Linked DNA regions of Homo sapiens: all the other regions are linked to region 3. The links come from fine-mapping of genetic effects on gene expression. Tissue or cell type: whole blood. Region 3 holds a variant in brackets; each other region holds the start of a gene. Each region is shown on its reference strand, or each on the opposite one.

The links. PIP is the estimated chance that this variant, and not a neighbour inherited with it, causes the effect.
Region 1: MRC1 starts here. The variant in region 3 is the best candidate, but not a certain one, in a credible set for the expression of MRC1 in whole blood (TOPMed, PIP 0.66).
Region 2: it holds the start of GFRA2, and the variant in region 3 is fine-mapped to the expression of GFRA2 in whole blood (TOPMed, PIP above 0.99).

Annotation. Positions count from the first base shown.
Region 1 is chr10:17,806,936-17,812,160 of GRCh38, reverse strand. MRC1 (mannose receptor C-type 1) reads right to left here and starts at 2,813. Exons shown (of 30, transcript NM_002438.4): 1 at 2,635-2,813. The coding sequence starts at 2,695.
Region 2 is chr8:21,786,503-21,791,715 of GRCh38, reverse strand. It overlaps GFRA2 (GDNF family receptor alpha 2), which reads left to right and starts at 2,841. Exons shown (of 9, transcript NM_001495.5): 1 at 2,841-3,596. The coding sequence starts at 3,557.
Region 3 is chr3:188,415,171-188,420,395 of GRCh38, reverse strand. All of the region lies in intron 4 of LPP (LIM domain containing preferred translocation partner in lipoma), which reads right to left. Among named protein-coding and RNA genes, the nearest start is that of LPP-AS1, 150 kb to the left of the region's middle. The variant A/T (reference allele first, on the strand shown) is at 2,401.

The sequences.
Region 1 (5,225 bases), not on the chromosome of region 3:
CCATCCGTTGGCAGCAGCCCACAGAGACTTATGGTGCTAATGCTGTGGGATGCTCTCCTGAAGGTGGAAGGAAGGGGTGTGGATTGAAAAGAAATAAACTGATGGCAAGTAGGGAGACCTTCCCATGGGTTTTCCTAGTGGGCAGGAAGCCAGGGGAGAGGTGTTGGGGCTTCGCATAGTTTAACCTGCTGCTAACTAAGCAGGTGCCCTGCCTTTACACAAATTCCTCCAATCACATGCTTCTCGGGCCAAGAAAAGATAAAATAAAAGTTACAGGCTGGGTGCAGTGGCTCACATCTATCATCCTGCACTATGGGAGGCCAAAGTGGGAGGATCACCAGAGCCCAGAAGTTTGAGATCGGCCTGAGCAAGATAGTGAGACCCCATCTCTACAAAAATAAAAAAAAATAAAAAAAATTAAAAATTAGCCTGGCATAGTGGCTCAAGCCCAAAGTCCCAGCTACTGGGGAGTTGGGAGTGGGCCAAGGTGGGAGGATTGCATGAGCCCAGATGTCAAGGCTGCAGTGAGCCATGATCACACCACTGCACTCCAGCCTGGGTGACAGAGTGAAACCAGTCTCAAAAAACAAAACAACACAAATTACAGGCTTTCACGTAGGAAAAAAAAATCTGGAAGGGGGGTCCCTTGAATTTTTTGTTTGTTTATTCTCCAAGTAAACAGATCTTCAGCATCCCCCTTCTCTCCCCAATATTTGTGCCTATGAAGAGGAAGACATTAGTCAGAGGAGGGCATCCTGCTGTCAGGAAGAGGGAAACACTCCTGAGCAAACCGAGAAACACTATTGCTCAAAGCATTATTGAGTCAGTTTAAAGAAAATTAGGCACTGTGTCTGTGCTGCCCAGTATGATAGCCAGTCACCTCATGTAACCATTGTACACTTAAAATGACACTACTGTGAATTGAGACATGCTATAAGTATGCAATACTCACCAGATTTTGAAGAGTTAGTTTTAAGAAATGAATGGGAAAATATTCCAAATCGATTAAATGTTGAGGGATAATATTTCCGAGTTACTGGGTGAAATAAAATACATTAATAATATCAGGGCTGGGCGCTGTGGCTCATGCCTATAATCCCAGCACTTTGGGAGGCTGAGGAGGGCAGATCACTTGAGGTCAGGAGTTCGAGGCCAGCCTGGCCAACATGGTGAAACGTTGTCTCTACTAAAACTACAAAAATCAGCTGGGCATGGTGGTGCATGCCTGTAATCCCAGCTACTTGGGAGGCCGAGGCAGGAGAATCACTCGAACCCAGGAAGTAGAGGTTGCAGTGAGCCAAGATCATGCCACTGCACTGCAGCCTGGGCAACAAAATGAGAATCTGTCTCAAAAATAAAAATAAAATTAATTTCATCTATCCTTTTTATTTGGCCTTTTATGTACTTCTTTTCTGCCACTGATTTTAATAGCTAACACTTATAAGGCACTTACTATGGGTCATACTCTGTTCTAAACATTTCACATATTGTTACTCATTGAATCATCACAAGAACTGATGGGGGCAGGTAATATTATTCTTTCCATTTTATAGACATGGAAACTAAAGCACAAAGAAATAAAGTAGCCTGCCCAAGGTCGCAAAGCTAGTGAGTGAGAGAGACAGGATGTAAACCATACCGCCTTCACTTGTGTTTTTGTAATCACTACCACTCAATACTTATGATTTAACATTTGCGGTACTAAAACACTCTCTTCCTAGGAAACTTCCCACCCGCCTTCACATCAGTGCATAGAGTAGATCGTAGGCACAAACCATTCTCTGCAAGTGTTTGTTGATTTCATAGAATTAAAGGGGGATCAGAAATCAAAAAATCAAATTTGAAATCTCTTCTAAATCATCTCCAAATAGAACCAGGAATGAAAATCCCCCGAGGCACTCCCATCCTGAAGTTTAAGCAACTGAGTATAGAGAAATAGAAAAGACAGACTGGAAAAGGTATTTGAGAATTTGAACAACTCTGGAGCTGTTCCTAATGAGTAATCTCTAATCTCCAGAAAAAGAAGAAAAACAGGAATCGATCTGCTTATGCGGCAGTTTGAATAGTCTAGAATACAGATAAGGATGAACTTTCTAACAATCAAGTGTCTGAATGATTCTGGCAGAAAAAAAAATGAGTATGGAAATTGCTTAGAATCTCTTTTGGGGGGATGATCTGCGATGATACCCTCGGACCTAAGACGCGGGGAGACATCAGGGCTGCCCTCCTTCCAGCCAGAGACACTCAGAAGGTGTTTGTTGGCGGTGAGACAGAAATAGTGTGAATTGAAAACCAGAAAGAGTAAACCACAGAGCAGGAAATTTCTGCACGAAGAAAACAGGGAAGGAACAACGAGCGATGAGAGAAGTCAGGAGGACACTGAAGGTCTGTAGGGTTCCCGGCAGGGCAGCAACCGAGACCTGAGACGCATCCTCCTCCCTCCTCCAACTCCAGGCCTCCCATGCCTGGCCGCCAGGTGAAGGCAGCAGGCTTAGCCGTGGACTGCGTGGTGCAGGGGAACCCCGTTTCCTCCTCACAAAGATGTTGAAAGGAACCCATTCACAGTAACCCAGAAGAGGAAGGTGTGGTTCCGGCCCCCCAGGTCAGAGATCCCCTGCCTCAGAGCAGACTTACCCAGTAGGAGAACAGCACCCGGAATGACAGAGGCAAAAACCAGGAGCAGGGGTAGCCTCATGGCCCAGGGTTTATCCTTTCCTTCTCCTGATGGACAGGAGGGCGGAACTAAGACGCAAAACAACGAGGCCCCCCAACTGCCTCTCCACCTAATCCAAGTTCCCAGAGCTGCCCAGCTGAAAAGAACTACAGAGGAAGCCCTCCCTTTTAAAGGGCTCCTGAATTTAGGGAAAGCCTCTACTGAGGAGACATCCTGTCACATGAGGGTGGCTGGAAAAACAGGAATTCAAAGTAACAACTTTGCTTCGTAAGCTAACTTCTGAGAAGAGCAGACGCAGAGGAAGGGGAGAAAGGGACACGTGTGGGAGAGGAGTGGCGGGGTGGGGAGGAGAGAGGGCGATGGTGATGGTGAGGAGTCAGGAAGGAGAGAAGTGAAACAGCCTGGGAGCTCCCGGCCTGCTCAGATGGGGCTGGGTGGAGATCAAGCTGCAGGCCATTACCTGTGCCGGAAGACGGAGCTTCCCCTGGGAAGCAGCTGAGTCAGGGGTCCCTCAGCAGACAACCTCCACTCTGAAGTGACAGCCACACGGGCCCTGGAAAGGACAGTTTTACGCTGGAAACACTTCAGAGTTGAAGCTCATCCCCTTCAGTTTCCACATTCAGTGCTTAGAGCCTTTCTTTTTTTTCTTGGAAAGTTTCAACAGAAAGTTCCGTGGAGCTTCATTTCCTCCAGGCAGAAGAAAAGTGAAAAGGAGGCTACACCTAAGAGGGAATGTCAGTCAGGCCAGGAAGGAGAAAGTTCTAGAAACCTTTTGCTAGAACGTTCTCTAGAAAGCCAGAAAAAACAGTGGTAAAGGATTTGCAGTAAAGCCTTGCTGCCCAGCCTCAACCATCCCGGTCCTCTTCAAGTTTAAGTGGGTCCCCTTGCTAGAAAAAGAAAATCTGGCCAGGCACAATGGCTCACGCCTGCAATCCCAGCAGTTTGGGAGGCCGAGGCAGTCAGATCACCCGAGGTCAGGAGTTTGAAACCAGCCTGGTCAACATGGCAAAAACCCGTCTCTACTAAAAATACAAAAGTTAGCCGGGTGTGATCATGCACACCTGTAAGCCCAGCTACTCAGGAGGCTGAGGCAACAGAATCGTTTGAACCTGGGAAGTGGAAGTTACAGTGAGTCAGGATCGCACCACTACACTCCAGCCTGGGCGACAGACGCGAAACTCCATCTCAAAAAAAAAAAAGAAAAGAAAAAAAAGAAAAAGAAAATCTGATTGTTTGGTCAAAAGGTATATCTTTATTTAAAGGCAAGTGGAATTCTTTCTTAGAATAAAATATGTTTCTAGATCTTTCATTAAGCAGAAAATAACCCTCCAAACATTTATGTTGTCATTTTTCAAAAGTAGAACAGGAATTTAGAACATTTTAAAGCAGAAACTAACGATTAGCTGGCCAAACCGTTACTAGAGTGTGGAATATGTTAGTAATTCAAAAAGAAGCTACTGGAAACATTGTAATTTTTAAAATTTTTTAAATGAATAGTTTTATCTTCAAACGGAAAGCCTCCACATTCGTTGTCTTTGTGATAAAGTTGAAAAGTTTCCATCCTATTAGAAATGTGATGTAGTTCTCTTACTGATTGTTTTTAACATGTAAATTTGAGATTATCCTGACCGGAGGGAAAAAGATAGTGAAAATGTAGGACAGAGGACCAAAGTTTCTTTGTCACTAAGGCTGTACATGACTGAAAAAAAAAATGATGGTTATAGAACAGAACAGACAAAACAAAAATGTTTCTCAGACATTGTTTCACTGGCTTATGAAAATAATAGTTTAAATGGGTCATTTGTGGCTTTCAAATATAAATAAATCATATACAAAAGTGACTGCCTAATTTACATTTATATATATTTCAGAAGCAAATACATTTAATTGAATTATGTATATAATCACATTCAGGGTTGGTTTGTTTCTTTGAGACAGAGTCTTGCTCTGTCGCCCAGGCTGGAGTGCAGTGGTGCAATCTGGGCTCACTGCAACCTCCACCTCCCGGGTTCAAGCGATTCTCCTACCTCAGCCTCCCAAGTGGCTGGGATTACAGGCGCGTGCCATGATGCCCAGCTATTTTTTGCATTTTTAGTATAGACGGGGTTTCACCATGTTGGCCAGGCTGGTCTCAAACCCCTGACCTCAAGTGATCCGCCCGCCTTGGCCTCTGAAAGTGCTGGGATTACAGACGTGTGCCACCATACCTGGCCCAGGGTTTGTTTTTTAATTACATAAGTGTGTATATCACATTAGTAAAATTAAAAATTAGGATCAGTACTAAAATCTGTGAAGTTTAAACAAAATGCAGCCAACCACCCCACAAAGAATTTACCCCATGACCTTGACCTCGTTGAAACAAAGATTTATCAGGCTACAAGAGGCCACTGGGGCAAAAAATAAATCCAAATCTTGGGGAAGGGATGTCACAGAAGATGGTGGTGTGGGAAACTCCAGGAATTCATCCCTCCATCTAAGCAGCCATCAAATGGACAGGAACTGACTGAAGTAACTGCAGGTGCTCCTCTACTCATGATCAAATTAGGCCCTG
Region 2 (5,213 bases), not on the chromosome of region 3:
TACTAGCCGCTTTGTGTAGTATCTTATGTAATTTCTACAACGTTGGTTTATCTTTTTTAATCCCCATTTTATAGATGAGATGACTGAGGTTCAGAAGTCCTCTTATCTATAAGGTGTTATAGTACATGTTCAACTGTGTTTCCTCTGTAGATCCCGGCACAAGGCAGGGGGTCTTCCTCATGGCAGATGCTCAGGAAATAAGGGATGATGCCATTTTTAAGAGCAGTTTGGGTTGAGTGTTGGGGTGGGCAGAGGGTGGGGTGTCATGGGATACGTCTGTATAGGCAGTAGGTAAGAGAGGGTCCAAGGTCAGAGTGCCCTGCAGTCACACAAGCTGAATGCTGGTGGTGACTGATTGGTGTTCTCTACTGTTCTTGGGATGGCTGGGTGGTCTTGGGTCGCAGAAGGGCCACTTACCTCCTGCTACCGGAATCCTCTTTCCTACTCCCGTGGGAGCTCAGTGAGAACCATCCCCAGGGCTTCATTGCTGCTTTCTCAGCCCCATTTTCTGGATAGGTGGGAGGGGAGAACTACATATATGATTCAGAGAATTTCTCTCATTATGCTCAAATGAAGTTAAAAGAAAGTGAAATTCTTTTTTGTGGGGAAGGGGAGAGGGATATGCTGAGCAGAAATTCTGGAGTTTGGAGCAGGGTCCTTGGAAGGGGGAAGGCCTGCGTGAGATTCCGAAATGGGTGGTGGTGGGGAGTATTTGGACAACCAGAAGACCCTGGAAGTCGAGGAGATGAGAGGGGGGACATTCATTTAGGCCAGGCTCCCAGCCTCGGGCCTCCAGGCCAAGCCTGCCTGGCAGTGTAATTCCTGTCAAGTTTTATCTTTTAACCTACACTTATCCAAAGCCGGTTCCTTATGCTCCCCAATTTTTGGAAAAAAAGCCAAGAGACCTTGTCAGATGCGAAGTCACTTCCTAGAACATGAGAGGCTTGGAGGAATGACAGGGAGGGCAGGCCTGAAGGGGGCTTTCCCCAACTCCAATCCCTAAGCCCTCTGTCCCAGACTCGTCACTACCCAGCTAGGGCCTAGGCTCGAAGCAGGCACAACTGGATGGCTGGGGGAGAAGATGGAGGGAGGAAGGTCGATGCCCCAGGACGGACCACAGGAAAGAGGCGTTCACAGGAGACTCGCTCTCTGTGCTTCCAAGGCCGGGAGCAGCCGCCTTCCCGCCTAAATCCTCAAGATGGAAGTTGCTCCCTCTAGCTTTCCCAATAGCTAAGGCTGCTGGTTTTGTTAGTGACCCCTCCCTTCTCGTCCAAGTCGATTTCTAGCATTTACTGGATTCCAGAGTCTTGTTATTTAAGAATGCATCTTAAACGGTACTATCAAATTCATGTTACGTGCAGCCCAGATTGTTTTGGGCAGCACGAAAAGTTTCTGAGGCGCTGCGTGTACCCCACCCCAGGACACCGTGTGTGCGCGCCGAGCTGAGTGCGAGGAACGTGGCGCGAGGGCCGGGGGATGCCGGGCTGCGTGGGTGTGAGCCCTCGCGCGACCGCGACCCCGCGCCTCTCCCGCTCTCGCCGGAACGTGACCGCAGCCGCACCTCTCCTCCAGCCCTTTCCCAGCCAGACGCTTCCTTTTAGGTCCTTCTGGGCGTTTATTGTAAATTCTGCGACTAAAACACGCCGGTGAGCCCGGCCCACCGACAGATGGATCAATCGCCCCCTTCCCGGCTAGGGGAGGAGGAACCCCCCAACCCCGGAGCCTAGGGAGCCGGGAGCTGCCTCGGGACGAGCTCCTCGGAGCCCAGCCGGCTGCGGAGCCCCGGCCCGGGTCGGTCTCGGGGCCCTCCTGCCGGGGTGGGGTGCGAGCCCCTGCCCGATTCCTCTGGGGCGGTTCAGGCAGGTTTGCCGGCCTCCGAGGAGGTGGTCAGGGCGCCCTGGCCCAGCAGGCTTCTTCCCGAGCCGGGGGGAGGGGAGACCGGCTGGGGAAGGGGCATCTCGAAGGGGTGGAGGCCGGGGCGGGCGGGAGGCAAGCGCGCCGCGGGCGTGAGGGCAAAGTTCCCGAGGTCCGCGCGGAGAGCACACGTGTATGTGCGCGCGGGGCTAGGCCGGGGCCGGCAGGATGCGTTGGGTTCGGGGGCGCGCGGGGCCGGCGCCGAAGGGGATAATTCCTTTCCCTGGCACCATCGGGGAGACGCTTTGTCGGCCTCGGCTCCTGGGCGCAGGGACGCCTTAGCCCACGGAGGGTGGAGCCCCCCTCAGACCCGGGCCACCGGCTGGGGTTTTTCTAACGCCCTGCCCCCCGAGCCCCCGGATGGCTCGGGCCCCACGGACTCCGCGCCCTCCAGCCTCAGCTCAGCTCCCCAGGCTTCCCAGACCCAGCGGCGCAGGGGGCGGGGGCAGGGGCAGTGGGGGTTGGAGGGCGCAGCCGGTCCCCAGGGTGGGGAGAGCTGCGGGGGGAGGAGGAGGAGGGTGCCGACGCTTGAGTGGGTTCGAGCCCGAGCCGTAGCCGGGGGAGCCAGTCAGTTTCCGGCCAAGGCAGCAGGTCAGTCCCAGGAAGGGCGGGCGATTGAGCCGAGGGAGCCGGCGGCTGGGCTCTCCTCTCGGCCCGCGATCCCCGGCGCCGCCGCCGCCGCCACCGCCACCGCCACCGCCTTCGCCTTGTCGCCGCCGCCGCTGCAGAGCATCGTAGCTCCGCCGCGCTCCCGCGCCCCGCGCCCCGCGCCGCCAGCCGCCTGGGAGCCCGAGCGCCGAGCCCGGGGCGGAGGAGAGGGGCGCTGGCGCGAGAGCCCGGGCGAGGGAGCCGCGAAGGGAGAAGGGGGCGGGCGGAGGGAGGAGCAGGGAGAGTGGGAGAAGGGGGAGGGAGAGAGGAGAGCGAGGGAGAGCTGGAGAGAGCGAGAGCAAAGAGCGAGCGAGGGAGAGGAGAGAGAGAGAGAGGAGAGAGAAAGACACACGCACGCAGAGACACACGGTCACTGGAATTCCATTAGAAAAAAGTGAGCCGAGCAAGGGTTAGCGGGAGAAGATTTTTTTGAATCTTGTCTTCGTCTTGGTGCGAAAGAAGCGACTCCAGTCTCTCGTCCTCGAAGCTCCGACTGGATTGTTCTTGGGCGCTGACACCCGTCTGTGGATTTCTTTTCTATTTGCATTTTATTCCGACCCCCTCCCTCGCCGCTTCCTTCCAGCCCTTCACTCGCAAATCGCCTCTCTCCCCACCTCCCCAGGCCCCTCCTGGGAAGCGCAGGGGAATTGGACCCGCGGGGACTCACGCCTTCCCGGACGATTGGAGGGGAGGGCTGACCCCAGGACTGGGCTGTTGGCTTAGAAAGCCGATACACAGATACGCGTATATTTGATTGTAGCGGGCAAGGGGGGCGTCGAGAGGCAGCAGCCCATCGCCCGCCTCTCACCCCACCCCCTCCAGCCAGAGGCGAGAATCGCAGGACTCGGGATCTTCATCGGGTGGACTAGCTGGGATCTCCGCATTGGATTTGGGGCTGATTACCACTGCTTGCCTATTATTATTGTTGTTGTTACTACTATTATTTTTTTTTACCCAAGGGAGAAAGACAAAAAAACGGTGGGATTTATTTAACATGATCTTGGCAAACGTCTTCTGCCTCTTCTTCTTTCTAGGTGAGTACCTGCGGGCGGCGAGCTCGAGGGGGAGGCGAGAAGCCGGGGAGGCGGGGGGCGAGCGGAGCGCCGGTGGGGGGCTGGCGGGAGGTCGGCGGGGAGAGCGCGCCGCGGAGCTAGCCGGGCCCGGTGCTGGCGAACCGAGCGGGGCCGGGCGGCAGGGACGCGGACGAGGGACCGGAGCCGCGGCTGGCTGGCGACGCAGGGGGATCGGGAGGGAGACTCAACATCCGAACCAGCCCCGCAGACACTGTGCACGCACACACACACCCGCGCTCGCTCACACGCCAGTATAGCGCGCATCTCCCCCGAAATAATGGGTTCGAATTGCGGCAACTTAAGAAAAAAAAATATCCAACTCTTGATCTGCAAGAAGGGAGGGAGAGAGAGGCTCCTAGGCGGGGAGAGAACAGTCCTGCGGGGTCCGCCTTTCCTGGTCTGCTCCCCGAGTCGGTCGTGGTGGAGGGCGCGGGTTTCTCCGGCGGCTCCCGCTTGGACATCGCGCGGGGAGCGCTGGCAGTCACTCCCCACCTGCCAGCCGCGCCTGGCAAACGGAGCCCGCGTCCCCACGCCCTGAGCCCCTAACCGGCGGCTCCACTCCCCGGAACACTTTTCAAGTTTCTCCCCACCGAGCCCCGAGCCAGATGGGTGGGCGGGAGCGGAGGGTTGTGAGCAGCCGTTCCCGGCCTTCCCTCCTCCACCTCTGGGGGCCGCGGACCCCCGTGGCTGGTGGGAAGAGGCGGGAGGGAGGCCAAAGTTTGCTTTCTCCGTTGAAGAGGGTGGGAGGCGAGGGAGGAAAAACGGGTCTGAACAAAGACCACTGCTCCTTCTGCAAACCCCCCCCACTGCCCCCCCCGCCGCCTCCAAGACAGGGAGGAGAGGCTGCCTGGCGCCACTGAGCCCCACGCAGTTTCTTTTCCACACAGAATTCCCAGCTCCTCTCTCCCTTTAAAGCTAGGTGAAATCGCAGCTGCTTGGGAAATGGCAATCTCCGGAGGGAGGTGAGGAAAGGCGGTTGTTTGCAAGGCTGTGCACCACCGGGAGTCCCAGGCAGGGCTGCTGCCAGGGAGTAGACGCTCCCATAGAGGGAGCCGGGTAACTACTGTGTATGTGTGTGTGTGTGTGAGTGTGTTTGTAAGGAGCACACGTCTGCTTCAGTGAGGGTGTAGTTCTACCACCTTGGCTTGCTGTGTAGCCAGTGTTGAGCCAGGCTGCCCAGCGGGGTCATGATCTCACCCTCTCCCTCCTGCAGTAGGGGATCTGGGAAGGCCACGAGTGGGGAGGTAGGAGCTGGTTACAGGAGGATGTGCGTGGTCTAAGAAGTGCTCGCCAGACTAGGATAGGGGACCGGAGTCATTGGGTGTCCACACAGGCTCTGGACTCTCTGCCTGTCCCCTCTGCTTCCCGCCAGGTGCGAGTCCCCAAGGGGGCAAGTCCCTGCTCTAGGGTGTGGCCTCAGAGGTCCTACCTCCCTCAGCCAGAGGCAGCTTCTCTCTGGGGTGGGAGGGGCTCCTCTAGGAAGCTGGAAGTTGCTCTGGGCCCGCTGTGATCCCGAAGCCCTTCCTGTCAACCCTGGCAAGTGGACTCTCATTCTGAAGGGGCTACTATAAAATCTGA
Region 3 (5,225 bases):
CATTTACATTTTAACTGTACTTATAGTTCAATAGTAAAAACACTACTTTTCAAAGAGATAATATAAACATGAATCATTTTTTGCCACATTGACAAAGTTCAAGTAAAGTAATTCTACTTCTAACAAAGGTGTAATGCAAATTCAAAAAAGGAATCATAATTCTAGCAAGGACAAACATACACCAAGCCAATTCTAAAATCTCTATTAGCAAATACAAAAAGAAACAAGGATACAACTAAGATTATTTTTTAAATGGTCAGCATGAGCTATATGGGATTTTATAATTAAAATTTTATAATCAGAATTTTTTAAAAAAAACTATGGATAGAACCCTCAGAGCTAATGTTCATATTTTCATTTCAATAATAATAGCAAGAACAATGATTGCAGCTTCCACTGATTTTGTCATTATTTTGTCATGACTTAACTTTGAAAACAACTCTTTAAGATACAAATATCTCTATTTCATTTATTCATATATTTATTTATTATTTTTATTTATTCATTTATTTGAGATGGAGTCTTACTCTGACGCCTAGGCTGGAATGGAATGCAGTGGCTTACAGCAACCTCCACCTTCTGTGTTCAAGTGATTCGCCTGCCTCAGTCTCCCAAGTAGCTGGGATTACAGGTGTGTGCCACCACGCCCGGCTAATTTTTGTATTTTTAGTAAAGTCGGGGTTTTGCCATGTTGGCCAGACTGGTCTTGAACTCCTGATCTCAGGTGATCCACCCTTGGCCTCCCAAAGTGCTGGGATTACAGGCGTGAGCCACCACGCCTAGTGCATAACTATCTCTATTTTAAAACTGAAAGAACTTAGGTTGCCACTTATCCTGGTGAGTCCAAGTTTCCAGAGAATTAAGAGGTAAAATCAAAACTCGAAACCCAGATCTATCTGATGCCAGAGTCTACAAGCTTAACCACTGCCTCCCTGAGTCTTTCTTCTCTGTAACCTTCCAATACTACCTTGGCTCCAAGCAAACTCTTTCTTCTGATAGAGTTAGCCATGGAGTCACTTCACAAATAGAAGCTGTACAGTAAAGCTTTATATTGTTAGTTAACTGGGCATTTTCATATGTTGAATTTCTAATGAAAATATAAACTGTTTAAGGGCTAAGACGTGTTTTTACTTTTTCCTGTCCACTACAGAGCCTGGTTAAGTAACAATGGCACAAGATGGAAGTGAATAGGACCCAGTAAAAGAACGGAATTTAATGCAGATGTCAAGATATAAAACAGTGAAATCTTATCTACCAGGAATCACATTGGGTGGCATTCATGACACTTTACTCTCACCTCAAGTGGTGATATTTCTGGGAGACCTCATAGAACTTGGAGATTTCTTTCCCAGGAGGTAATTTTTACAGAGGATGCCCTTACTAAAACCCAAGTCATTACAACATTAACAGATCAATAATAAAAATAATGACGAATTAAAATGCCATTTCTATAGAACGGTAAAAAATAAAATAAAATGTCATTTTAATTCCATTGTAATGTCAATAAAACTACCCCTGATATCTGAAAAGTTTAAGCAAGATGACACAATTCAACTGAACTAAGGAAAATTCCAAATGGTTATTCCAAAGGTCTTGTCAAATAATGTCGCCTTGAGACACTATTTGAGAAACTTGGTAATAACTTCTTGAGACTACTTTGGCTGTTTTATATTTGTATACATCATAGACATCCATGCACAGGAGATTGATTTTAAGCAATTTTCACACATTATTTGGATGACCTTAACCTTCAAATCGCTCTGGATAGTAATAATTCGGGAAAATAATGATGGAAAAATTATTTCATTTAATACAAGTAATAATGGCATTAACATGAGATACAGTGTACTGCTGAGGAACAGCTACAGACTTGGATTTAGGAGACAAGGGTTCAATTCCCAGCTTTGCAATATGCTAGTTATTTCACTTTACATACATTATACTTGGCAGATTGAGGGTGATAATAACTTTTTTACAGAGTAGCTAGAAAGATAAAGTAAGCAGTAAAGCAAAGTGGACTTCAGATGAAATGGAAGCTAATAAATCCACTACAATATTTTTCAAATAGTTAAGATACTGTTCTGCCAGATAAGTTGTTTTAGTAATTGTAATAATTCATTATTACCAAATAGTGTTTATCGTACATTACCAATACTTAAGGGAAGATACTAAAATTTGGTCAAATGTGACTTCTACATTTATTAGCCTAACCTTGGGTCTCTGAATCACAGATTTTTCATTTGTCTTTAGGAACCATAATAATGTAGGAACTATAATAACGTTGCAGGATATTCTGGTGATTAAACTAGATATTATGTGAGAAAGTGCTCTAAAATTTATTCACATTTGTGCACACTCATACAAACACATTTTAAAATTACAAGTTGTAATGAACATTTC[A/T]CAATAAAATCCTTCTTTCATTGCTTCCTGTTTTCTCAGGATTACCCCAACGTGTGAACAAGTAAGAGAGCAAAACAAAACAAAAAATGATTAAGTTAGCTTACAACTCCATTCTTAAGCGTGTGTGTTTGACTAGGTAAAAAAAGCTGCCTGAAATTATTTCAGGAGATTTAAAGAGAATTGCCTTTTGCTTTTTCTTTCTTGCCTTAGCATTTGTATGCACAGGCACATTTCATTCTAAAATATAACAGACAAGTGCAGAGAGATAGCAATAGTACTTCTGGCCAGTACCTCCAGGAAAGTACTTCTTGCCTGTGGTATAAGATCATATTTCTTGGTCCTTCCTCTCTGAAGCTACCTAACTTCCTGGAGCTATTTCTAGAGGTAAGTTTCAGAGCACGCTAGAACATTTAGGTCTACCCATAGTGAAGTCACTCTGTTCACATTGCAAAGCTATTCCCAGGAGCCCAGATGCATTGCCTGAGGACATCAGCAAAGAGCTGCCAAAATTACAAGGGTCAGGATGGGGGCCATTCTCTGCTTTTGCACATGCTGTTCCCTTTACTTGGCATGCCATGCTGTCCACCACCCTTTTCTGCTTGGTAAACAACTAACTCATTCTCCAACACTCAGATCAGATGTGTCCTCGTCTGTGATGCTTTCCCCAGTTCCTCCTAGAGGACATCCTTCATATTATATTACGGCACTAAATTTACATAATGCAATTTTTATGCACATGTGGTGCCTGTTATATGTCTATCTTGACTAGTAGACTTATCTATTCTGTTTGAAGACAGCGACATACAGAACAATGTAAAGAACATATAATAAGGGAGAGTGCTGGAAGAGCAAACTGCTAGAAGACTCAGGATGCCACATCCCAATGACCTATACTCCTCTGCCCCAGGTGCTGTCCTCAGCCATCAGGTCTCTCTGAATGCAGTAATTTTAAGAAAGGATGATAAAAATATCATACTGATTTTTTTTAAGTTCTTTAGGTTAATCGTTATTCTAGGGTATGATTTCTTTATATGGTATATTTGCCCAAAGGCTCAGGTGTCAGATTTATTTTTATAATGTCCATAATGAATCCATTTTTAGATAATTTACATAGGCCTACTGTGACCCAAAATTGGCTGAGATTTCAGGCATTGCTACCCAAAGCAACACAATAGCAAGAGCTCTGTAATGCAGAAGCTTGTCCATGGCTAGGGCATTCTCGAAGAATCCATTTTTTTGTTGTTGTTTGAAATTTTCTGGTTTTGGATCCCAAATAAAATGACCCAGGACAACATATGCAAACGATTGGTGTCTATAATGAAAGCACTGAGGGAAAAGAATAGCAACATGAAAGATGCTCTAGGTCTCTGAATCTGTACAATGTTCACAAGATAAAGACTCTCAAGACTTCAAAAGCTACCATCATTAACTACGGGAGGAAGAGTACACTCTCAGGACTTGGAGAAGGTTCAAAGGAGATTAAGGCACTGGTCCCTGAAGTTAATGAAATAAATGAGTGGTTCCCAAACGTTGGTTGAGCATCAATCACAATTCCCGGGAAGTTCTGTTTTATTTTTTATTTTGCTTTGTTTTAATGCAGATTCCTGGGCCCCATGGCCAGATATTTTGATTCTGTAAAATTGTGATGGGACCTAGGACTTGCTTTAATTTTTTTCTTTTGAAAAATGTTCTCCAAGTCTTTCTGATGACTGGCCAGCTTTGAAAACCACAGGTTTAAGCCATACATTTTGGCAGGGATACATATAGCAGTGATCTTTCAAAGTATCATGCAAGCAATTCAGATGGCATGTAAGATAGCACTTTGAGTAAGAGAAGAATACATTAAGATATCTATATGCATTCCTTTATTTTACTATTATTAATTTTTTTTTAAATATGGACTCATAGAAAGTTGCAAAAATAGTACAGAGTTTCCATGTACATTTTACCCAGGTTCCCTAAATGGTAATGCTCATAAAGCTGTAATACATTCGAAAACCCAGCAAACTGACATTGTTACCTTATTGTTAACTAGGAGTTACTCAGTTTTTACCATTTTATAACCTGCATTGATTTGTGTGTGCATACAGTTCTATGTAACTTTATCCCATGTATAGATTCATGTAATCATCACTCCAATTGAGGTACAGATCTGTTCCACCCATACAAAGACTCTTGCTGCGTCCTCTTTGTAGGAATGACCAGTACTTGCCCCCCCCCGACCCACCCATTTCTGTCCCCTAGCAATCATGAATATGTCCTTTATCTCTAGAGCTTTGTCTTAAAATGAAATCATATAATACATGTAACCTTTCGAGACAGTTTTTTCATTAAGCATGTCCAGGTTATTGCATATACCAACAATACTTCATTCTTTTTTACTGCTGAATGGTATTATTCCATTGTATGGCTGTACCAGACTTCACTGAAACATCTGCCCATCAAAGGATATTTGGGTTGTTTCCAGTGTTTTGTCATTATGATAAAAAAAAAAAAGTTGCTATGAACATCCATGTACAGGTTTTTTCGTGAACATAACATTTTGATTCTCTGGATTAAATGCCAAAGGGTATATTTGCTGAGTCATATGGTTAGTACATGTTTACTTTTGTAAAATACCGCCAAAGAGTTTTCCATCGTGGCTACAAAATTTTGCACATGCCTACCAGCATTGTGAGAGATCATTTCTCCACATCCTTAGCAGCATCTGGTACAAATTTTTATTTTAGCTTTTCTAATACATGTGTGGTGATATCTCTTTGTGGCTCTCTGTTTATTTTTATTATCAAAAAAGCAATTAAATTCTCTTCAGATGTAAAATACGG